6 separate regions of the Homo sapiens genome follow, and all the other regions are reported to be linked to region 2. The links are microRNA targets in miRTarBase. Many come from high-throughput screens and were not tested one by one. Region 2 holds a microRNA gene; each other region holds the end of a gene's coding sequence.

The links. Region 2 holds the annotated microRNA hsa-miR-4698 (UCAAAAUGUAGAGGAAGACCCCA, at 2,883-2,905, shown strand). A microRNA usually pairs through its seed, bases 2 to 8, with sites in the 3' UTR of a target mRNA and lowers its output. Matches are read on the target gene's strand: a 7mer-m8 pairs with bases 2 to 8, a 7mer-A1 pairs with bases 2 to 7 and ends in A, and an 8mer does both.
Region 1: the mRNA of SECISBP2L is a reported target of hsa-miR-4698. Seed matches in the 3' UTR shown: 7mer-m8 at 3,415-3,421, 8mer at 3,187-3,194 and 8mer at 1,183-1,190.
Region 3: the mRNA of DNAJC28 is a reported target of hsa-miR-4698. The part of its 3' UTR that is shown has no 7-base or 8-base seed match.
Region 4: the mRNA of CCSER2 is a reported target of hsa-miR-4698. Seed matches in the 3' UTR shown: 7mer-A1 at 2,721-2,727, 8mer at 1,865-1,872 and 8mer at 1,604-1,611.
Region 5: the mRNA of RAPGEF6 is a reported target of hsa-miR-4698. Seed matches in the 3' UTR shown: 7mer-A1 at 1,029-1,035, 7mer-m8 at 1,345-1,351, 7mer-A1 at 2,755-2,761 and 7mer-A1 at 3,053-3,059.
Region 6: the mRNA of RGP1 is a reported target of hsa-miR-4698. Seed matches in the 3' UTR shown: 7mer-A1 at 2,208-2,214 and 7mer-m8 at 258-264.

The regions. Positions count from the first base shown.
Region 1 is chr15:48,988,751-48,992,840 of GRCh38, forward strand. It overlaps SECISBP2L (SECIS binding protein 2 like), which reads right to left. Exons shown (of 18, transcript NM_001193489.2): 18 at 1-4,090. The coding sequence ends at 3,494. Among named protein-coding and RNA genes, the nearest start is that of SHC4, 27 kb to the left of the region's middle.
Region 2 is chr12:47,184,978-47,189,085 of GRCh38, forward strand. MIR4698 (microRNA 4698) reads left to right here and starts at 2,835; the gene lies at 2,835-2,914. All of the region lies in intron 2 of PCED1B (PC-esterase domain containing 1B), which reads left to right.
Region 3 is chr21:33,484,863-33,488,970 of GRCh38, reverse strand. DNAJC28 (DnaJ heat shock protein family (Hsp40) member C28) reads left to right here. Exons shown (of 2, transcript NM_001040192.3): 2 at 1-916. The coding sequence ends at 744. Among named protein-coding and RNA genes, the nearest start is that of DNAJC28, 4.8 kb to the left of the region's middle.
Region 4 is chr10:84,513,964-84,518,052 of GRCh38, reverse strand. It overlaps CCSER2 (coiled-coil serine rich protein 2), which reads right to left. Exons shown (of 10, transcript NM_001284240.2): 10 at 1-4,089. The coding sequence ends at 3,786. Among named protein-coding and RNA genes, the nearest start is that of CCSER2, 190 kb to the right of the region's middle. RefSeq lists an enhancer at 3,471-3,640.
Region 5 is chr5:131,423,401-131,427,508 of GRCh38, reverse strand. RAPGEF6 (Rap guanine nucleotide exchange factor 6) reads left to right here. Exons shown (of 28, transcript NM_016340.6): 28 at 218-3,588. The coding sequence ends at 243. Among named protein-coding and RNA genes, the nearest start is that of CDC42SE2, 160 kb to the right of the region's middle.
Region 6 is chr9:35,752,127-35,756,126 of GRCh38, reverse strand. RGP1 (RGP1 partner of RAB6A GEF complex) reads right to left here. Exons shown (of 9, transcript NM_001080496.3): 8 at 3,982-4,000; 9 at 1-3,476. The coding sequence ends at 3,253. It overlaps MSMP (microseminoprotein, prostate associated), which reads left to right and starts at 1,851. Exons shown (of 3, transcript NM_001044264.3): 1 at 1,851-2,127; 2 at 2,359-2,467; 3 at 2,847-3,137. The coding sequence starts at 1,998. The coding sequence ends at 3,027. RefSeq lists an enhancer at 2,038-3,237.

The sequences.
Region 1 (4,090 bases), not on the chromosome of region 2:
CAAAAGATGAAAATCCCTTCATGTTATAACTCACACTAATTTTGCTAGTTTTTTATTAGAGCATTACAATTAAGACATTAAATTATAAACTTATGTGGTATATTTAGAAATTAAATTATAAAATAATACAAATACTTTCAAGGTGTGATGTGCCAACAAAATTTAAATTTTTCTCATTAGGATTCAGATTTCAGATTAGGCAAACAGTTTGGTTGATTCTGTGATGTATGTAAAGGTTGGAAGGGATGAGGGAGGAGGAAGATGTCTGTAAATAAATTATTTCACAGAATTTTTTTAAATCAAAAAAAGATAAAAATTTTTAAATGAGTTGATGTTCTAACCTGTTGGCCCAACATACAGAAAATACATGACAAGGGTGTTTTTTTTTTTTAAGCAAACAGCAGCTTTACAAACAGTAATACTTCTTTATACATATATTAAAGTAACAATGTGTTAAGATTGAACAGTTTCATGTTAAAGAGTTGAAAATGAGTGTAGCATTCACTACTCATTTGCACATTTCAATTCCCACCCCTCCCTCCTCCCCCAGCTTATTTAGAAATCAGACAAGTACATATTTGGATATTAATTTCTCAGTATTTAAACTATGTGAATTCCTTTTGACTAATTCTTTTCCAAATACTGGAATCATATAAAATACCATCTCTGCAAAAACAACCTCCAGTCAAAGCCAGTAAAAACTTCTCAATGTATAACACACATTACTTTTCCACATTTAGTCAAAAGAAATATATTACATCATTTACAAACATATTTAAACCGAAAATTAAGCTAATATGAACATCTGTCTTTTGAGAAGTAATCTTCACAGCAAACAAACCTACTGAAGCAGAAATCTAACTTTGGAAGTGTAATTCATATTTTAGTTAATATGCTTACATACTGAAATAGAAATCTATTATTAATTATTGCCAGTAAAACCACCTCTACACATTAAGAGAAAAAATCACTATGTTTTTTATTTCTTGTGATGATGAACCAACCCTTACTCTTCCCACTGGATCTCTTTATAGGTCTTCAAAGAGCCAACCATGCCCACTTCAAAAAATATATAAAAACTTTCCTAATTTTCACAACTCCTCCAAAGCCTGTAATTCAATATTCCAAAATTTAAAGGAAACAAGTTATAAAGACATTATTAATATTTATTTAAGCATGCTCTCAAAATGGTAACATTTCCTTTAATAATTCTTGGGTTGTCCTCTAGAGGTGACCTGTCTCATAAAAAGGCTATGGTCCCTTGGATTTGCTGGCAGAAGAGGTACTGCATATGCGAGAGCATTTACCGAACATATAAATAAACACTTCTGAAGTCTATAGCAAAACTAAAAGTTACCAGTGTTCTGAAGATTTCCTCAACTTCTCTTTTGATACAAATGTCAAAAATCTAAAATGACAATTCATGTTCAGAAGAGATATAAAATATAAGAAACCTGTGAAAAGCCATCATCTCAAGGTCAAGAGTTATCTGAATCACTGACATCGAGCAAAGGAAATTTACACCATAAAAAGTATGAACAGTTTTTAAATTCACTTTTAAGACTGTCAGTAGTTCAAAACCTCTATCATTTCTTTAAACCAACGAACACTTCCAAATGTGTAGAGACAGTAAGATCTGCCATGTATAAATCCATGAGTACTATTTCAGAGGCTTCATTCCTTACCTGCTGTGTTCCTTTAAATATTGGATATTTAGTGCCTAGGAAGTCTATACTGGAGAACAGTTTAGACAGGACAGTATAAGAATGTCCCCTTTTAGCACAATAATAAAGTTGATTGACTAACATTTTCTACACAGCTCCTGAACTTTCACAATTCACAAATACTAAATCATCAACCAAGAATCCAATCTCTCCAGTAATTAAATGCCAGCATTATAAAACATCAAAACTAGCACAGTAGTCCCAATGAGTTCAGTAAAGAATCTGCCCAATTCTTCTCTCCTGCCTCTGTGAGGCAAAGCCCTGCCCCAGATAATCAGGGCAGGGATAATACCCCTTCCTTCTCAGTTTTGTGCCTGCTTATGGAAGCTTGTAAGTGGAAAACACACACACGTACGGATGTGTGCATGTGTGTGAGGGGGGTGGGGGGGACAGTTGGGGGTGGTGGGGAGTTGGATGGAAGACAAAAAAATTACATAGTTTGTCATTCTTCCACCATTACATAAACTTGTAAAGTCACTGAAGTCCAGGTGGTGACTGACTAGCAAATAAAACATTTAGCTCATTTATTGTCTCCTAAGCAGGTATACAAACTCCTAGAGAAGGGCAGAGATAAATAATAGTGAATAGAGAATTAATACCTACATATCTGTATACTCTAAATCATCTAATAGTTTCAGCACAATTAGAACAACTTTCTCTTATCTTCTAAAACTTCCTCCTCTAAGCCTTGATTATCAGGATACATGTCACAAGTTGTGCAAAGTTCCTTTCCTTGACCTCCTGACAGTAACTATGGTCATTGCTATGTGGAAGGTGCTCAAGGCTAGGTGCAAAATAGGTATTTTTTAAAAGGTGAAACAGTTTTGCACTCAGGACAAGTTTGGATACTCAATCAAATCCATATCTCAAATCAAGAGTCCTGAACCAGAAGCATGCAAGAGAACACACCAGTATAAGACTCTGTTTCTGAAGAGTTTACATGTAAGTGCAGCAGTCATACAATCGGTTACAGTTATTCACCTGTCAACATGTGCCTAGCTTTTTGTAAATAAGTCTATGTACAAGAGCATTCCTGAGGTAAGTAAGAAGCAAATATGAGACAGAACCTGGAGGTCCTATCATGGGTGACTGTTCACTATTATAGACAGCATCTATCACTTTCCACAAATGAGGCTAGCTAGCTATAATCTAAGATGGTGGCTCCACTGCTAGCCGAAGTTTTGAAGGCTCTGTTTTAGCCCATCCCAACACTAATTAATTACAATAATCAGTGACTTCTGACTAAACATTTGTGGACCACATAAAAGTTGCATTGATTTTTTAACATACAACACTGGTGGACTTAGTTACCCTCAGCCTTTCATTTAATTTTCTGACTCCACCCCCAGTTCTTTTTTAAAGAAGCCCAAACAATTTTTTGGTCAAATTAGAGTAGAGGAGGTGGAGTCCTGAAGCAAACACTGATAACTGCTTCTATCCTTAGAACCTTGTTCTTTAACTTTCAAAATGTCTTTTAAGTAAGCATTTGAAATTTATTTTCTTTAAGATCTGGTCTTCTTTTTATCACTGTTTTTGATTACAAAATAAGCTGAAACAGATCTGAATTTTCCACACAGTTCTTAGAAAGACACTTAGATACTAATTAAAAGCTAAGCTACAGATCATAACAAGTAAAAGCTACAAAAATATTTGTTGGGAATTAAATACGTATATTAAATACTGGACAGTGCAAAATGTTGAGATGAAGCATAAAAGGTAATGGCTGCAACCCTTCCACAGCTGGAGATAGAGAGCCGACATTTCCTGAGTTACGTAGTTTGCGTTGTGTAATTAGAATCAGAGTGCTCTTTGTTGAGCGAGCTGCAGTTGCTGGACTTCTGCTGCCCAGGACTGGCCTGCTGGTCAGCAGTCCATGCCTCACTGTCCATCCCTGGCTCCAGCACCTCAGGCGCCTCTGCTTCCTCTTCTCCACTTTGCTCTACATTGTCTTCCTCAGAACCATTAAGGGTTTTTCCAAGCTGAAGGGTTTCCATAGTTCTCTGGGTCTCTGAGACCCAAGACTCAATTCTACTATTGAGCTGCACTTCTACAGATATGGGTTCATGAGTATAATCTTCCTCCTCCTCCTCATCTTCATCTTCTTCTTCTTCAAGCATGCCAGGTACAAGAGTGCTGGTGGTGCTGGTGATGGAGGAATTCAAAAGATCTCGGCAACTGCCATCCAAAGAGCCAGTCTCTGTACTCTGCTGTGAGGCCCATTCCAGGTCATCTGGCTTCACTTCCTCTTTATCACTTGCTGTGGATTTCCCAGCACTTGTAGCTGAGGTAGTACTGCCTGTAGCCACTAATGATGGCTGCTTACCAATTGGGGGTGTGTCAAATGGAAGTTTACTGGGTTTTTCAGA
Region 2 (4,108 bases):
AACTGTGTAGTAATGCTGTCAGACTCCTTCTTTTTCCCTAGCTTTCCTTTCCACCAGCTTTAGCTTGTAAACTTGTTTCCTCATGTTTGTAGCCTCATAGTCACAAGATGTTGCTGCATCTCCAGGTAGATGAAAGGCAGGAGCAAAAGGCCTTTATATGGATTGAACTGTGTCCCCAAAAAAGATATGTTGATATCCTAACCCAGATACCTGCAAATGTGGCCTTATTTGGAATGCAAATGTAATTAGTTAAGATGAGGTCATATTGAACCAGGGTGGGCCCTAATCCAATAACTGATGTCCTTACAAAAAGAAAAAACAGAGACAGACACAAGAAGAGAACGCTATGTGAAGGCAGAGACACACACAGAGGGAAGACAGCCCTGTGAAGAAGGAGGCAGAAGTTGAAGTATTGAAGCTGCAAGCCGAGGAATGCCAAGTATTGCTGGTGTAGGAGAGGAAAATAATTACCTTTTCTGTACCCATCCTAGGTTCTCCAGCTAGGGAAAATTAGACTGCATATTAGAGTGGCCCGGCACGGTGGCTCACACCTGTAATCCCAGCACTTTGGAAGGCTGACGGGGGTGGATCACTTAAGGCCAGCAGTTCGAGACCAGCCTGGCCAACATGTTGAAACCCCATCTCTACTGAAAATACAAAGATTAGCTGGGCTTGGTGGCAGGCACCTGTAATCCCAACTATGCAGGAGGCTGAGGCAGCAGAACTGCTTGAACCTGGGAGGTGGAGGTTGCAGTGAGCTGAAATCGTGGTACTACTACTCCAGCTTGGGCAACAGCAGAGCTAGACTCAGTCTCAAAAAAAAAAAAAGACTGTATATTAGACTGACAAAAGACAGATTAACAAGAGAAAAACAAACAAGTTTATTGAAATATGCATTGCACATACACATAGGAGTATTCAGTAATAAGTAATTCAAAGGAGTGGTTAGAACTTGAACTTAGTCTGGTGCAGTGGCTCACACCTGTAATCCCAGCACTTTGGGAGGCCAAGGTGGGCGGATCACGAGGTCAAGAGTTTGAGACCAGCCTGACCAACATGGTGAAACCCCATCTCTACTAAAAATAACAAAATTAGCCAGATGTGGTGGCACGCCCCTGTAATCCCAGCTACTCAGGAGACTGAGGCAGGAGAACTGCTTGAACCCAGGGGGCAGGGGTTGCAGTGAGCCAAGATCGCGCCCCTGCACTCCAGCCTGGGTGACAGAGTGAGACTCCGTCTAAAAAAAAAGAAAAAAAAAAAGAACTTGAACTTACATAGAATTGAGCAAAGAACAATAATTTTGTAGAGAAGTGGCAAGACAAAGGAAAATGACTTTGAGCTTCTAGGGGCAGCAAATTGTGGGAAGGCAAATATATGGGGAAACTTATGGTAGATGAGGGCTAGTTAATACGTTTTGTTTTTGTAGATTCCTCTGGATGACATCTTGTCTCCAGTGATAAGGTGTTGTCCCTTTATGTTATCCCTTTACTGGTAGGGGGGTAGAGGGGGGCACTTTCACAAGGGGAGCTTATGTTCTGTTTTCAGGCAGATAGGAGGCGGACAGAGATCTCATCCTGGGTCTGCTTTTTCTCAGTTGCCTTCAAGTCAAAATAATCCATATGCCAGAGTGGCATATTGTGGGGTGGCATAATCCAAACCCCTTCATTGGCAAGCATCAGAAGCCAGGAAGAGACAAGAAAAGGTTTTTTCCCCTACAGCTTTCAGAAGGAGCATGGCCCTGCTGACACCTTATTTCAGTCTGAGGGCCTTCAGAATTGTGAGATACTACATTTCTGTTGTAATCTACCCAGTTTGTGATACTTCGTGATGGCAGCCCAAGGAAATTAACACAGCACAAAATCTTGTCTTTACTTAGGATATCTCCAGCTGATTTCTTTTTATATCCTATTGGCCAGAACAAGGTCAAATGCCCAAACCAAGAACAACCAATTGATAAAGGGAAGGAGATTTCCATGACTGGTTAGGCCTATCCTGGAGTCGGGGACCACTCTCCTTGGAAGCAAAGATCTCTCCTTACCACCTGAACACACTGAAAGAAGGGAAAATGGCTCTTGGGGAGGTAGTGGGTAGTGCCTATCACACTTGAAGGTGGACCACTGTGCTGCTCTGTGGACTTTAGAAATGCTGCCCTACTTAACAGTGTTTGAGATTCATCTCAAAACAGATCTTTACCTTCTCCAGAAGCACTCAGGAGTTTAGGTGAAAGATCCAGGTGGATAGCTCCAGGGTAAGAAGTTAGAAATGCTGACACTATGTGAGAGATAGTGTTCATAGGGAGAGACCATGGGATCTTACCTAAAACCAAGAAATGGGTGGTAAATGTAGTGAAAAGGAAGCACCAGGAAATTGGAAATCTCAGGGAGGAGAAAAGGCAGGTGAAATGATCTGGTACTGATGAAAATCCCCCATCTCTACATCAAGGGGATTATTAACTCAGTTTCAAAAATAGAGAACAAGAGAGAAAAAGAGAAACAGGGATGCTGTTTTAACTATAGGCAGCAGTATATAGTAAGACATATTTTTAATCTTTTATCAGTGAAAGTGTAAACAGTTAAATCCAGCACTAAATAATAAATGTGTCAATATTTTAAAATATATTTTTTCATAGCTAAAATTAGAACTAAACATGCTAATGAACTCAGCACCAAGGGCTGGAGGTGATGGAGAGAACATTTCATCTCCCAGGCAACTCCCAACTCTGCAAGTTCTAGAATTCCTAAACATTAAATTTTCTTCATTGAAGACATATTTGGGAACTATAGCTTCATCATAAGGCAGCCAAGTCTTGTGATATATGGGTTAAAGGAAAGTTATGCTTCTCCTGGGGTCTTCCTCTACATTTCCACCTAGACGGGCCTGGGTCAAAATGTAGAGGAAGACCCCAGAAGGAGCAAAACTTTCACCTGCGCCTCTTCCACCTGGGTCTGTCCTTTATCCTACCAGCTCCAAGAACAGGATTGTAATTGGTCACCTGATCTACCTGCATCTTCCTGACTGCAACAAGTTCTTTGCCCTATAGCTGCTTTATTTCCACAGTTTGTCTTACCTGGAAGCACCTCTTCCTTCTTGGAGTCCCTTCTGTTCCCCAGACATACCTCTGTCATGGCACCATAGCATTTTGTGGCTTTTAAAAATTACATGTCTTATCTCCCCTTACTAAGGACTTTGGGGACAGTGATCTTGCCTTAGTTGTCTTTGGGTTCCCAGCATCTAACACCATTGGGGTCTCTTAAATGTTGGATGAATAAATAAATTATTAAAGGCTAATCTCAGGGGGGAATAGAATATGTCATAAATTCCTCAGCTGGAACTCATAGGGATCAATGATGTCCCACACAAAAGCCCTATAGGGACAAGAATTCAGGAAGGGTGTTAGCTGCAAATCTTCCTGGCCTATGGAGAAGCATGGAATATACTGTGAGCCATATATGTCCCTGAAGCTAATCTAATCTATCTCAATGAAATTATATGCTTAGGTATTGTCATCTCAGTTTCTAATGTGTAACTTTTGCTTTCCTTGGAAATTGAAAGGATTTGAGCCATTTCTTAGGTAGTTTCAGGACGATACTGCTTCTCAGAGTTAAGGACTTCCTTTTTTCAATGTGTACCTGAACATCCAGAAGTTAAAAACAAGAGTAGCAGAGTCTTGCAGATGCAAACATAGTACAGAAGTTCTCATCCATCGCCCAAATTGAAACGTGCAATGTAAGCTGTAGCCATCCAGTTCCACTGCAGTGCTGGAGCAGAGGAGCAAGGGAGTTGGGATGAATGTGAAGAACTCAGAGGACCATTGGGAGCATATTCATTTCACTCATTCTCCGTAAAAAACAGGCATGTTGCTGGTAACCTGGACTTTTTCCAACCCTGGCTACACAGTTGCTGGATTTAGGTGCCAGACTCCTGTTGCTTCTTATTGCAAAATGCCCCCACATGGCATTTTGCCCCATTTTCATTTCTGCTTCTGATTAGGTCACTGTGAACTTTCTCTCCATGTTTACTCAAAGTACCAGAAATATGTAGGGACAGCCTCCACTTATCTCGAGATTTCCTGCTGTTCATGATTCAGCTCACTTTGCTGTTCTTTTTC
Region 3 (4,108 bases), not on the chromosome of region 2:
ATTGGTTTTGGGACTCCAACTCAACGAGAGAAGCATTATAGGCAATTTAGGGCAGACCGTGCTGCTGAACAAGTGATGGAATATCAAAAGCAGAAACTACAAAGCCAGTATTTTCCTGATAGTGTAATTGTTAAAAATATAAGACAGAGCAAACAGCAAAAGATAACGCAAGCTATAGAACGTTTAGTGGAGGACCTCATTCAAGAATCCATGGCAAAAGGAGACTTTGACAATCTCAGTGGGAAAGGAAAACCTCTGAAAAAGTTTTCTGACTGTTCTTACATTGATCCCATGACTCACAACCTGAACCGAATACTGATCGATAATGGATACCAACCAGAATGGATCCTTAAGCAAAAGGAAATAAGCGATACTATTGAGCAACTCAGAGAGGCAATTTTAGTGTCTAGGAAAAAACTTGGGAATCCAATGACACCAACTGAAAAGAAACAGTGGAACCATGTTTGTGAGCAGTTTCAAGAAAACATCAGAAAATTAAACAAGCGAATTAATGATTTTAATTTAATTGTTCCCATCCTGACCAGGCAAAAAGTCCATTTTGATGCTCAGAAAGAAATTGTCAGAGCCCAGAAAATATACGAGACCCTTATAAAAACAAAAGAAGTCACAGATAGAAACCCAAATAACCTTGATCAAGGAGAAGGAGAGAAAACACCTGAAATCAAGAAAGGTTTTTTAAACTGGATGAATCTGTGGAAATTTATTAAAATACGATCATTTTGATGTTTACTATCATAAATCATTCTTAGTTCCACTGACACTTTACATGGAAAATGAGATTTATTGCTATAATACAAGAATTTAAGAATTGTGCCATTGTACTTATCACAAAACTAATCACATAGCCAATGATGTGTGAGTGAGAAACCTATCAGGTTTGTCCTGAGGATATAGCAAGAAAAGAAAATAACTGAAACTCCTTTTTTTTTGAGACGGCGTCTCGCTCTGTCACCCAGGCTGGAGTGCAATGGCACAATCTAGGCTCACTGCAACCTCTGCTTCCCAGGTTCAAGTGATTATCCTGCCTCAGACTCCCGAATAGCTGGGATTATAGGCACACACCACCATACCCGGCTATTTTTGTATTTTGTTTTCTTTTTTTTTGAGACAGAGTCTCACTCTGTCGCCCAGGCTGGAGTGCAGTGGCGCGATCTCGGCTCACTGCAAGCTCCACCTCCTGGGTTCACGCCATTCTCCAGCCTCAGCCTCCTGAGTAGCTGGGATTACAGGCGCCTGCCACCACGCCCAGCTAATTTTTTGTATTTTTAGTAGAGACGGGGTTTCACTGTGTTAGCCAGGATGGTCTTGATCTCCTGACCTCGTGATCCGCCCGCCTCGGCCTCCCAAAGTGCTGGGATTACAGGTGTGAGCCACCGCGCCTGGCCTATTTTTGTATTTTTTGTAGAGACGGGGTTTCACCATGTTGGCCAGGATGGTCTCAAACCCCTGACCTCATGATCCACCTGCCTTGGCCTCCCAAAGTGCTGGGATTACGGGCTTGAGCCACCATGCCCGGCCTAATTTTTATATTTTTAATAGAGATGGGGTTTCACCATGTTGGCCAGGATGGTCTCGATCTCTTGACCTCATGATCCGCCCCCCTTGGCCTCCCAAAGTGCTGGGATTACAGGCGTGAGCCACCATGCCTGGCCAAAAATAACTGAAACTTCTAAAGAAAATAATTTAGTTCATTCTAGTGTTAAAATGTTGGTCATCCAGTGAAATGAGCTAGGATCAGGTTTCTGACTTAGGAATCATACATGAATTCCAAAAGTTTTGGTGCAGTTTTGAGCTGTAATAACTAACTTAAAAGCAGTGACTGTTGCCATTTTCAAACATAGGTACTTAAACAACAGGGAAACCGAAAAATATGTTATCAAAAGTCACAAAACTGAAGTGTTATGAAATTTAACCAATTAAACCTCCAGATGACTTTTTTTTTTAAACGAGCTTGCTGGATTTATATTCCTGAACTTATTAAGGCTCAAAACCGTTCCAAGACTTTTGGGACACCCTCCATATGGGTGGAAATATTAAGATCAGAAAATTAGCCTACTGGAATTACTGTACTTTTCTTTTTATGAGGGCCTTCTCTGTGGGTACTGAATGAAAAACACACCAAACATCCAGATTCTACTTTTTCCTGTCTAACTTGATGGTTTATTGGCTGCAGAAATCAGTGAAGCTAGTTGATTTAGCAATTCTAGAAAAAAACTCCAGTGTCCGCTTTTTTTTTTTTTTTTGAGATGGAGTTTCACTCTTGTTGCCCAGGCTGGAGTGCAATGGTGCAATCTTGGCTCACTGCAACCTCCGCCTCCTGGGTTCAAGTGATTCTCCTACCTCAGCCTCCCAAGTAGCTGGGATTAGAGGTGCCCGTCACCACGCCCAGCCAATTTTTATTTTTTTTAGTAGAGATGGGGTTTCACCATTTTGGCCAGGCTGGTCTCGAACTCCTGACTTCAGGTGATCCACCTGCCTTAACCTCCCAAAGTGCTGGGATTACAGGCGCGAGCCACTGTGCCTGGTCCAGTGGCCACTTTGTTTTTTTGAAATGGAGTTTTGCTGTTGTTGCCCAGGCTGGAGTGCAGTGTTTCCTTCTTTAATCCAGAGTGCTGTGTTACAGAAGTGGTTCAGAAGTGAGGGACTCACCACCTGCATTTTGGAAGAAAGTGTTATTTTGTAAAATGTGTGATAGTTAAAACAACAAACAAAACTACACCTTCAAAAAGAAATTTTTGGCCTTTAGCTTAGATGCTGCAGCATTAATTGGCATAATATGTGATTATAATTTATTGAATGATTTGTCATTTGGTTTCTACAATGATAGTATCACTGTAAATAAAATTGTGAACAGTATGGAATGTTGCTTAATAAGAGCTATAGTTCCAAAAACATTTTAGAAGGCAGTAATTTTGTGACTCTTGTTAAAAGTGGGAATTCGAGGCCGGGCGCGGTGGCTCATGCCTGTAATCCCAGCACTTGGGGAGGCCCAGGCGGGCGGATCATGAGGTCAGGAGATTGAGACCATCCTGGCTAACACGGTGAAACCCTGTCTCTACTAAAAATACAAAAAAATTTAGCTGAGCATGGCGGTGTGCGCCTGTAGTCCCAGCTGCTGGGGAGGCTGAGGCAGCAGAATGGCACGAACCCAGGAGGTGGAGCTTGCAGTGAGCCGAGATCGCGCCACTGCACTCCAGCCTGGGTGACAGAGCAAGACTCCGTCTTAAAAAAAAAAAAAAAGTGGGAATTAGACGTAAGAGGCTTAACTGCATTACAGCAACATAGATGAACAAAACCATTTTCCATATTGGTCAATGAGAAGGTAAGGTTACCAGAAAATGTCAGTAAATTTTTAATTTCAGCACAGTGCACTTTATGTTTGTAAATGTTGTCTATGTTAATAAAGTTACTATAATAATTATTCAATGTCCCTTTGTTATAATGGTAATAATATTTTGGGCTAGGCATCTAATTTTTTTTTTTTTGTAATGGAGTTTTGCTCTTGTTGCCCAGGCTGGAGTGCAATGGCGCAATCTCGGCTCACTGCAAACTTTGCCTAGTGGGTTCAAGAGATTCTCCTGCCCCAGCCTCCCAAGTAGCTGGGATTACAGGCATGTGCCACCACGTCCGGCTAATTTTGTATTTTTAGTAGAGACAGGGTTTCTCCATGTTGGTCAGGCTCGTCTCAAACTCCTGACCTCAGGTGATCCACCCGCCTCAGCCTCCCAAAGTGCTGAGATTACAGGCATGAGCCACCGCCCCCAGCCCTGAATGCATTTTTTTAAAAAAATCTTTTTGATTGGCCAGGCACGGTGGTTCATGCCTGTAATCCCAACATTTTGAGAGACCAAGGCAGGAGGATTGCTTGAGCCCAGGAGTTTGAGACCAGCCAGAGAAACATGGTGAAACTCTGTCTCTACCAAAAACAACAACAACAACAACAACAAATCAGGTGTGGTAGCACATTCCTGTAGTCCCAGCTACTTGGGAGCCTGAGGTGGGAGGATCGCTTGAGCCCAGGAGGTCAAGGCTGCAGTGAGCCATGATCACACCACTGCACTCCAGCCTGGGCAAGAGTAAGACCCTC
Region 4 (4,089 bases), not on the chromosome of region 2:
ACAGCTATAATTAATTTTCAAATGTGTGCTTAAGCATGCAAACATAACCACCCAAACGAATTTAAAAACACAAAAACTACTGGGTAAGATGGAAAGTAAATTGAAATGGTGCTGCAGCCTTATTGATCTTAATTGCAAGCCTGTTCGGTGATTTCAAAGTACATCCCCAGTGCCCTAGAGACCAGGAAACCAGTATGACAACTCTGCTCAGAAACCAAGAGTGCACCTCAGTGTCTGTAACACCATTTATGCTACAGGAACATTTGGAAGTGACAGCTGTAGGGGGATCACGCTCTCTCTGATGTACTGAGAAAAAAGTAAAATACTTATCGGAACAATGGAACATTCAAAGAAAACTTAGTGCTTTAATGGAAAAGTGACATGCTGGGAATATATTTCTGTGAACAGCTGTACTGATATCTTCAAACAGCAACAATTACAAATTTATTTCAACAAAGCCACACCCAATAGGAGGCAATTCGATATTTCAGGCACAACTTCAAGCAATTAAGCTCATTTAAAGTGCAAATCTGATATTTTCTTTCATATTCAGATTTTTACTTGTTAAAGTACTTAGTAAATTCTAATATATATATAAATACAATGAACAGTAGCCTATATGCCTGAAAATATTGCACAAATAAAAATGAGACTCCAAAAGAAAAATGTTAGATGGTCTCAGTTATTAGAAACAGTCTAAATGACATAACTCTATAATCCTTTAATGCCTTAAAATCATCTGCACCTGTACCAATAAACTCCTTAGGCCAAGCCTTCTTTTAAAAATTTGATATGCATCCCATTAACAGCCAAATATCAAAGTCTGAATACTCTACTAATTTCCTCTTTCACGAATGTGAAACTTAACAAACCCCATAAAATTTCTTCCTCAGGACTTAGAATTCATATACTGTAACTATCTTCATTGATACCACTAGAACTAAGACAATAAATGGTTTGTGGAGGAGGATTTGGCACAGAGTTGATTTACATTAATAGAAGCAATAAACACAGATCAAGCCAAATCTAAGATGATCTTTGATTATTCAGTAGAGTTACATCCTCACTTCCATTTCAGACTTAACATTTACTAAGAAGCAGACAAGCATGATATTCTTGCAGTTTTTAATGAAAACTGCAGGCAAATACTTTATGTCATGCAAGCATCCTAGATTTGTTTTCTTTTAATATATTATGCTTCATAAATATACGATAAGCCTATCTTCTAAAAGATTAAGACTCAACAAAGGTAGAGAAAAGTTGAGCTAATTGGTTAACATTTCTGCAAATCCATCAGGGAAGGAAAAAATAGAGAAAAATGGAGTAAATACATGGAGGAAAAAATAGAGAAAAATAAATTACTGGAGTCAACATTTTTATGTAATGGACAATAAAGACATTTCCCTCAGACTAGGGAATTAAAAATAAATTTAAAAATTTAGAACTTTTCCCTTAAGGATAAGGCCAACTCGTAAATAATGTTTCATAAGGGTCTAAACCAACTTCTAAATAAACCAAAAACCACTAAGTCACTGGTTTTACTTTAGGGGAATATAGTATGATTCACATATTTGCAACATGTGAGAACGGTTTTCTTTCTCCTTCAAAATGATAGAACATGTATGCCCACTTACAACTGCAGCCATCATGGGTCATCTCCATAACAAAGTGCTTTGCTGATTTGCCTGACTCTAACAGTATCTGGACTATGTGAAGAACGTTCTGAACTTCACTGCTTCTCCATCAGAAGTGCTGGTACATAAGAGTATGGTACAAGATTTGTCTTGCTCACCTCTTACCAAATCCAAGAATGGTTTCTATCCAGTGAATGGCAAATTCATCTGATAGGTAAGGGAATAATGGGTCAAAATGGTAGCAAACACTTCTTTCAAATTTCTACTAAAAGACTTGCTGTTGTTTTTCTTATAAAGGGGCAATTTCATCAACATACATCTTTTAAAGGAATCTCTAGAAATTTGAGTGACTTTTTGGCCATAATCCTGTTTGATATATTTTTGGTCAGCTGCTCAAAACAAACATTCTCCTTGTAAGGTTATCTATCTGAAAGATACTAATTCATTTAAAGCAGCTGCAGGTGAACAACCTAAAGATGACATGATTTGGGAGAAGAGGAAGGCAGATTTACTGAACTGACAAGTGACCCAAAGCATAATTAGGTTTGTGCACATGGTAGCATGGAGGTTCCACACCTACCTTCTACAGCGTATTAAAATAAGAATATTGTCTTTGAAACATCTTCTAGCACCTTTTTAATAAAACAAAATTTCCCATCTTCAATTCTATTTTTTTCCCAAATCTACCTTTAAAAAATTGTCTTTCAAAAATACACCATAGACGAGGTGGGTGGATCACTTGAGGTCAGGAGTTCGAGACCAGCCTGACCAACAAGGTGAAATCTCATCTCTACTAAAAATACAAAAAAATTAGCCAGGCATGGTGGCACATGCCTGTAGTCCCAGCTACTCAGGAGGCTGAGGCAGGAGAATCGCTTGAACCCGGGAGGCAGAAGTTGCAGTGAGCCGAGATTGCGCCACTGTAATCCAGCCTGGGCAATGGAGCAAGACTCTGTCTCAAAAAACAAACAGAAAAAAACAAAAAACACAGAAAAGGGAAACCTAGGAGACTGGAGATGGGGGAGGGGGAGAATATTATGAACTCCAGCTTTCTCAAGATAGTCTTATTTAAATTTGTTATTTTTCTCAAAATATTTTAACTTGTTTTGCTATAGAAAATAGTTTACAATCCCTATATATGGTATATTTATACCCCATCAAAGTTTTGTGCAAATGTTTCAAGTTCATTATTTCAGTCTTCAGATATTAGCAGAAAATCAATAAATATAAATATTACAATTAAAGACATAATGCTGTGGAACCTTAAAATGGCTATCATGGATCCACAAGCCTAAGGGTTCAAGCCTGAATTACCAGCAAAACTCTAGCACCAACATATGTTACAAATGAATACATCTTTAGGTACAGGTTTCAAGGTGTATCTCAAGCGCTCCAAAATTTACCCAGTAACAAATACAAACATAAATGGTATGTGTGTGTATATGTGTGTGTGCATGCACATGTGTTTGTAAAACAAGATGTAAAGGAATATATAACTGATTTATATGTAATAAGAAACACTTTCAGTCTGGGGAATTTGGGAAATGAATCAACAGTAACATTAGCTGACTGACCCTGGCAAGGAAAAATAAAACTTACATAGACTTTCCATTAAAAGCCTAATCTCCTTTATTCATCACAAAGCTTTTGCATAGACCTTTTAAATATACAAAACACTGGCCAGAACTCTGCTTACAGACTACCATCTTCCATTATCACCATATCTTTAGTTAAAATAGTAGCCATATTCACAGGAGAGACAAGTGAAAAGGGGTGAGGTTCTGACAACCACAATAAATACAGACCTTAATAGGACTAAACCAGCAAAGCACACTTCTTGCCTGCTCAGTAAAATATTATGAATTTTCTGACGTGGAGAGGGATGGATAACATGATTTGGGCCTTTGGCAGGCCTCTGAAATGGGTAAGCAAACTTTCGTGTTTACCTGAGATAATTATGCTCAAATGGCATGTACTTCAACCAGGATATAAAATGAAGGAGCCAAACTAGTAGAAGCTTCCACATTTTAATTTAAGATTTGCAGGCTTTCAATGGAACCTCCACCACAGTAGCAAGCTGCAAGCTGCACATAAAGCTATTACAGAAGAGATTGTTTTTAAGAAACAAATTGGCAGGTGATGGCTATGTACTTAATGTATCTTTGGTTTAGGAAGACGAGAATATCGATTAGAGGCCAAACAATCCCCAGAATGCAAATTGCCATTTGGATTCTGCATGATTTCTTTTCGTTGTGTTAGTGGCCTTGGGATGCTTGTCTTGGCCTGGAAGCTTTGAGGCTCTAGTTGGGGGCTGTTTGTTTGTTTTTGTTTGAAAGAGCCTGAGGGGGGGCGGAGCTTAGATGCTTTCAGATTCTGATTATTTGCAAGATTTGTTTGACTAGATGTTGGCTGAAGTTTTGCTGAATTACATGTTGTGATTATTGGTGACTTTTTA
Region 5 (4,108 bases), not on the chromosome of region 2:
AAGAGTAATAAAATGATTAAAAACCATGAAATTCCAGTTTATTGTCAACCTTCAATGTGATCAGAAATCATAGGTATTATTATAATAAAATCTGGGCCTCGATGCAATGTTTGAGAGGATTTCTTTGTTGACATTGATTTTCTAAATAGATAACTAGATTATTAGGATCTCATTAATATGCTGATCTGCCAGTTAATTATATATTTTTTATTTTCAGAAAATGAACAAGTTTCAGCAGTCTAGCCTTTGGATGACCTATTTGAAAACCACTGAAAGTCGTGGAGGAATGGGCAAGAACCACCTCATGATTCTGCAGGCCATTGCTAACGAACAGCTCATTGCTACAACCAGTCCAGAGGTTTTATTCCCTCTACTCCGAGCAATGAAATAGACCTGAGTTATGCTTCCTTTCATTTAATTTCTGCAGATAAATAGTTTCCTGAGCAATGGATGCTATGCCTGGATACCAGTCTCCACTTTGCACGCCGGAACTGCCTTGGGACCACAGTTACAGAAAAAATGTAAACTCAGAGTGATCCTTGTGTATATTGCTATAGATTTTTCTTTAACAAGCTATTTTAAAGATAATGGCATTATTATTTCCAAGCCATAGCTTGGGCTGAAGGACAAATTGAAATTGTCTGCCAATACCAAGGATATTCTTGTATATTTGAAAAATAACTTATTATTTGAATTGTTGTGGTTTTGTTTGTATTTGAGAGCTCTTGTTAGCTGATATTCATGTTTGAGGTCATAAAATTGTCTCTGGTCTGACCAAACAGAAGTCATCTTTACAGAGGTGATATGCTTGATCTACACAGAGATGTGACTTGATCTGTAGCACCAATGCAATGTAGGTCTCAGTTTGAGAGAAATAGGAAGCCCTTTGCAGTTGAGGTGTTAGGAACCTGCTGGTCATGGTGTGGAAGGCCAAATGAAGCTGCCACAGGGTTTCTTGTCAGTCCTTTGGGAAATGGGAGGGAGTAGTTTGGGGAGGAGGGTGGGAACCCTAATTTCCACAGAATGAAATTTTGATGTTAAATGACATGTATACAAATTCTTCCTTAAGTGAAAGTTATGCTGCATCGAATTGTAACTGAAAGTATAGATCCAACAAATAGAGACTGGGTTCTAGAGAGTTCTGGTCTATAGAAACCCAAAACTAAAATCTCTCATAACTCAAGTATGGAATACTTTTTTTAAAGAAATTCTTATCATGGGTGTTGTAATAATGAAGACGAATTTGACTTTATGCAGTGTTCTGCAGCATGCCTCCCCCACATCTCATAGCACCAGGTTGTGTCTGACCTGACATACCCTGCAGCTCTCAGCTGGCTGCAGTAACATTTTGTGGGAGAAAGAGGAGCTGGAGTTACAGAAATGATTGTCTCTTGGTTCTCAGTTTTTAGCCCTTGAGAGGACATACTTTTCCAGCCTCATGGGTATGGCACTCTTAATTAAAATTTCAGTGACTGTTTACTGGATGAGGCAGATTTTTCACATTTTTGCAAATTAAATATATTTTATATATATTAAGTTTAATTTTTTCAGTTTTTTTAATGTAAAAGCAAGTGAAATTTTAATAAACTTCTGTAATTACCAAAAAAAAAAAAAAAAAAAAAGCCAAAGCCATTAACGTGCACTACCCAGATCAACTTGGAGCCAAAAGGGGTTTACTTCTGAATGGCTGTCCGTATGTGTCCACATAGGATTTAGTTGGTTTGTGGCCTCCTTTATAGAAATGTGTTGTCTTTCCCTAGCTGTCTCTGCTGTCTGTCTTCCTGCATATCCCCCTTCATTTTAAAATCATGAATCAGTTGTAAGTGGTAAATGGTAGTAGTTCATCTTTCCCATCAACATGATTGTCTCTTTATTTTAGGAATAATAGCATTTCAAAAATTCCTGTGGTAAAGAAACATTAATCTGAAACTTAAGCCTTAGAAATTAATCGCAGGTATGATAGAATGAGGCTTGGTGGTTCCATAGCTTTCTTGGTCCTTTGAAATGGGAAATAACCTGAACCAAAAATCCTAGTTTGAAAGTTACACTTCAGTGATTTGGCCTATAAACAGTGGTCCTATGATTATACATTTTTTCCTTCACTGATTTGCATAATTTTGTTTTCATGGCCACAGCAAAACAATGTGAAATATATTTTTGCTATACCCACTTTTTTTATCAAATTCAGATGTCTACTCTCACCATTTTATATTCATTTCCCCAGAAAAATGTGCTGTTTTCATAATGTCTTTATTTAGCAGGTCTTTCAAACCAAATGGAAGCCTTACCTGTCTTTGTCCTTAATAGTGTAAATATCTTGCACAGAGTGTTGAGGCCTATGGTTTTGGACTTGCACCTTACAGCTGCCTTTGTTTTATCTATCTAGCTTTAACTGTGAGTGTTCAGATCAGCTGATCACATTGATCAGGAGCCAAAGCCAAATGCTTTGTAGTTTGTTATGTATGTATCCCTTAAAAAATCATGAGGTTTTGATTTTTATATTTTAACTAAGGGTACATTCCTGCCTTCTCTTAGTTTGTCATATGACTAGAACAAGAGAAGTCTTAAGCTGCATTTACTCCAATTCCAGATCTCCATTTGTTTTTGTTTTATAAATTTATAATCTTAATGAAGAGACTAGTGCCCTCTCTTCCTGCCACAACTCTCAATCTGCCAAGACTGTTGAAGCAGTTAACGCTCAGTGCAAACTTTTGCCAAATAGTAAGTTTCAACAAAATATCTTTATAGTGAAAGATTTTGAGAATTAGTAAATCCAGTACATGATTCCATAAAAGCTTATTAAAGTTAATAATTCTAATTTACTCCAAATGATTACTTTCAATATGATCTTTGGGGAGAAAAAGCCTTTAGTGAATTTTCTTGAGGGTGATAAATCACATCATTGCGATCTATATCACCTCCTTGAGAATCTCTCCCAGGCTGAAAATGTGATGGTAATCATGGGTGTTTTTAAGAACAAATCTAATTTTTATCAAGTGTTCTTTCCTCTACAAAAAAGGAAGGAGGAGAAAAAGCTTCCTTAAAACTGATTATTTTGATTCAATTTTAAGTTTCTAAAAAAGGTGATATTAAAGTATATGTATTCCTTCAGCATTACCTTAAAGGCTAGAAAAACGGGATAAATCTTCAGAAAAGTGTCAAAAGTGTCACAGTACATGTTCAAATTTAAACTTGAATCCTGGTTCATCTTTGACTTTTGTTGTGCATTTTTAATGCTTCTTTATTTTTGATACACAGAATGCAGTTGAACTTGATCTTTTAAAATTGAGACATGTAAGCTAATCAGCAAAAGACAGAAACAAAACTGCACATCTGTAATAATCAGATAGCAATTCTACTGCACAATTCATTGATTGTAAGGTATCCTGTAACAAGCAATGTTTGTCTCCTATTTTTTGATACCTCTTAAACTTATGTCTTTTAGAAAGACAGTGCCTCTGTATGCTTTTTGTATTTTTACTGAGTGTAAATATTTGTTATATTTTTGGTTAAGAGAATGTAAAAATACCATTTATTATTATCATATCTACTAATACATTGGTGGAATCAATAAAGAATCTACATTAATCTTCTCTGTACTTAATTATAAATGTATGGAACTGATGAAATAATTACAAACTTAGTCATTCGAGAGTGCCAGTCTGGGACCTGTGTTGGTGTGAAGGCCTTATTTTTTAACTATCCAGAAAAATTGGAGTGGTCCATTTGTTGTTGGTTATGTCAAATCTGTGAAACACCATAGCTATTGTTTAGGTTTAAAAAATTGTGTTTGATGGCATACCAAGTTAACAGTGGCTTAAACTCAATTGGGGCTTGTCTTTTTGTTATTGTTGTCTGTTTCTTTTTCTTCTTACAGTAGAAAAGTCTACAGACAAAACTGTCCGGGGCTGATACTGTAACTCCTCCACGATGCTGTCAAGGATGGCAAAAGTAGGGGTGAAAAGGATAGGCTTAGGTAAGGAAAAGGTGCAAATATGTGTCTCTTTCTACGCAAAGAGAACAAAACAGTAGTTTCCAGAAGCTCCACTTGCATGTTTGTACTTACATCCCATTAGTTAGACCTCTGTTGCATGACTGGTAGCTCCAA
Region 6 (4,000 bases), not on the chromosome of region 2:
GCCTTTAGTGCCAAAGAGATGGCTAGCAGGAGAGTGGTGAGAAAGGAGAACTGGAGAGTTCACATGAGCGGAAATAGGAAGAAATGGATCCAAATCCAAGTGAGAAAAAGCAGGAGACTTAAAGTTAGCCTGGCAGGATGATGAGAAAAGGACATCTTGTCCTAGGGTAGAGGCGAGGGTGCAGATCTGGGGGAAGAAGGCTTATTGGGAACAGTTTCTCAAACTAGACATTCAGAAGTCAATACAAGGGCCAAAACCAAAATGTTCCTGGAGGTACCTGTTTTTGAAAGAGGTGGGAAAGGTGACATGGATTAGGGGTCTCCATCCCCCAGGCCACAGGCCAGTACCAGTCTGTGGCCTGTTAGGAAGCGGGAGCACAAAGCAGGAGGTGGGCGGCAGGCGAGTGAGCATTACCGCCTGAGCTCCTCCTCCTGGCAGATCAGCAGAGGCATTAGATTCTCACAGGAGTGCAAACCCCACTGTGAACTCCGCATGCAAGGGATCTAGATTGCACACTCCTTATGAGAATCTAATGCCTGATGATCTGAGATGAAACAGTTTCATCCCAAAATCATCTCCCCGCTGCTATCCCCCTCCATCCACTGGTGGAAAAATTGTTTTCCACAAAACCGGTCCCTGGTACCAAAAAGGTTGGGGACTGCTGACAAGGAGTATGAGTGTGAAAGGTGCAGAGGTCTATGCCAGGAGACAGCCATCCCCAATAGAAGCCCTCAGCTATGCACAAACTGCTTAATGTCATTCAAAGAAAATAATGTCGCCCATTTTGCCTCAGAGCTTTAGCCCCAATCACAGCAACTGCTATTTCCTGACGCTTACGCACCAGAGATGGTGATAAGAGCACTGCACGCATTATCTCAGTAATCCTCATAACAGCCCAATGAGTTGGCATTACTATCCCCAATTTATAGATGAGGAAACAGGCTCAGAGAGGTGAAGTAATCTGACCAGGTTACATAGCTAAGTGGAGTCAGGATCTGAATCCAAGAAGACTGTCTCTACAGCCCATGCTCTCAATAATCCATCCTGGGCTCCTCCAGAACCTGTGGGAAACTCAGAGGATGCCAAATGATAAATTCCTAAAAACCTCACTCCATTATATATGGGAGGAAAGAGAGGACACCTCTGTGAACCTGGAGTGATTCATCCCATCAGGGCACTTAGAGATGCTCCTCTTTGAAAGGGGAAAGAACCATCCCCAGATGTGGGGTGATCCCACATCTGCTGTATGTTTGAAGGTGATAAGCAATGGACAGTTCACCTCTGGAATGCCTGAGGAAAAGAGACCCTCCCCACCATCTCTGAGGGGCAGCCCTATTTCTTGGATACATTAGGGAAACCCTGCCCTAGGATCTGAGGGAAACACAGTCTCCACTCCAGGTGCCTGCTCACTCTCCTGGAGCTTCTGGCCGTCGCACCCTATTGCAGCTCCTGGGTTTGGCTGGGGCACAGGATTAACCATCCCCAGGAAATGCCTCCCTCCGGTCCAGGCAGGGATCCCAGCATACACACCCCTGGTGGTGGCAGTGGGGGAGAAAGGGGGAAGGTGGAATGCTTCCTTCTCTCCAGGTCAGGGAAGAGATCTGGGGACCACCTGGGGGCCCTCGCCCCTCCTGCCTCCTTGCTGGGGAAGTGCCCAGTCCAGTGCCCCCTCCATGGCCACCTCCCTCCCTCTAGCTGTGCCGGGGCATGAATCAGCTCTCACAGCTTGTTAAAGCTAGACCTCTTGTTTTCATGCCCTCACCTCAGGAAACAGAGTTACAACTTTTCCAGCTCTACTCAGCAGGGGGCCAGGGTCCTCACTTTATAAACATCCCCAGCCTGTGAGAGCAGAGGGCAGGGAGATAGTGTGAGACAGGAGCCCAGGGGAGAAAGACAGAAACTAAGACTCAAGGAGCAACGCAAAGCAAAGTCAAGGAGTCAAGACCAGAGTAGCTGAGCAGAGGCCAAGAAGGGTCTGAGAGGGCTGTGCAGCAGCAATGGCCCTAAGGATGCTCTGGGCTGGACAGGCCAAGGGGATCCTAGGAGGCTGGGGGATCATCTGCTTGGTGATGTCTCTACTCCTCCAGCACCCAGGAGTCTACAGCAAGTGCTACTTCCAAGCTCAAGGTAAAGTGGGGTGAAGCGTTAGGAATGGAGGAGCAGCAGAGAGGGCACAGGGAGGATGGGGCCTTACAGATGATCCCGTGTCAAAATACCCAGGCTTCCTCCAGCTGTGAAACAGGAAAGACAAACTAAATACGGGGATAGTGCGTACTTACTGTCTCCACCCCAGACCAGAAGAGCCTCTGCCTCTCATCAGCACTCCTACACCTACTAACATTTCCCGTTCTTCCCTAGCCCCCTGTCACTATGAGGGGAAATATTTTACCCTGGGTGAGTCTTGGCTCCGCAAGGACTGTTTCCATTGCACCTGTCTGCATCCTGTTGGCGTGGGCTGCTGTGACACGTGAGTGACCAAAGATGGCCAGAGAGAATGACTCTGATATGAGTGACTGAGGGATGACCAGGGAGTGACTAGATTGCTGTGATGTAAGAATGAACAGAAGAGCAATACAAGATGGGCCAAACCTGAAGGGACCAACACTAGTGTGAAAGATAAGGCTTCAGGCTATAAATCAGGGGAGGTTGGGGTGGACCTGGAGAGAAAATACTCCTGTTATAAAACAAAAAGGCCCACATATGGTAGGTGACAGCTTAGTTAGGAGGACCAAGGGGCCACTGAAAGGGGCTCTGTGGGGGGAAAACTGTGAGAGAGGGAACATGTGGGCAGGGATAAAGGCAGCCTTTCACTGTGCTGACTCCTTCCCCTATCCTTGGTTCCCCAGGTCCCAGCATCCCATCGACTTCCCGGCTGGGTGTGAGGTACGTCAGGAGGCAGGAACCTGCCAGTTCTCCTTGGTGCAAAAATCTGACCCTCGGCTGCCCTGCAAAGGGGGAGGGCCTGACCCAGAATGGGGCTCAGCCAACACCCCTGTTCCTGGGGCTCCTGCTCCCCACTCCAGCTAAACTCAACTGATCATCCATCTGCTGACTGCTCACTGCTGCTGCCACTTCCAGGGAAACCACTAGCAGCTGCCAATGTATTCTGAACAAATAAATTAATGCTATAGCTGAAAGCCCGACTCTCACTGTCCACGACATTGGACCCCAGGTGGAAAAAGTGGGTCCCATTAGAGTCCAGGTGCTGAGTTCTCAGTATCCGGAAGGAACTAGCACCAGGGTGGGCCAGTTTCAGATGGTTATGGTGCTGGTGCTGGGGCCTGGGGCAGCATATGAGGCCAGGGTGGGGCTAGTAGGCAGCACCTTGATGGGCAGGTCCCAGCTGAAGGTGTCTACAGGTACTTGCTCAGGTCCTGTCCAGGTGGTAGGTTCGGGCTGTTCCACAGGGGGTAGGAGTACCAATCCTGGTTCTCGGGACGTTACAAATTCAAAATGCAATCTCCACTTCAAGGACACTATGGAAGAAAAAGATTAAGGTAGAAGCATCAGAAGCTAGCAGGAGTAAAAGCCAATGACAGGATATAGTTAGTGAATGAGAAGAAAACAATCTGTGTTCAGGAAGACAGGGAAAAGTCACAGGGCAGGGAGCTGTGATTAAGGGTTTTTCTGAAGCAATGGGTACTACCACAGATGTGAGCTGAAGATAGCAGTATTAAGTACCTAATAACCTAAGAGTGAGGCAGTCAAGTCTAGGTAGCATGAAGTAATCAAAAATCAGTGTATCACAGGGTCCTAGTAGGTAGGTGTGGGGAAGGAGTTCTATCAAGCTGTTAGGAGTTTAGGGGTCAGTGCATCTAAGAAACAGGAAGAGGTTGAAGGTCTGAGAAACTGTTCCGGGTCAGAGGCTAGACGTGGGTATGTCTGGGAGTGTGTATAAGGAATCAGGATCCATTACACCCTCCCTTAGCACAGCATTTTACTGTCCCCCTCTCCCTTCTCCAGTAACAGTGAGGGTCTCACCAATGGCTGTACAGAAGCC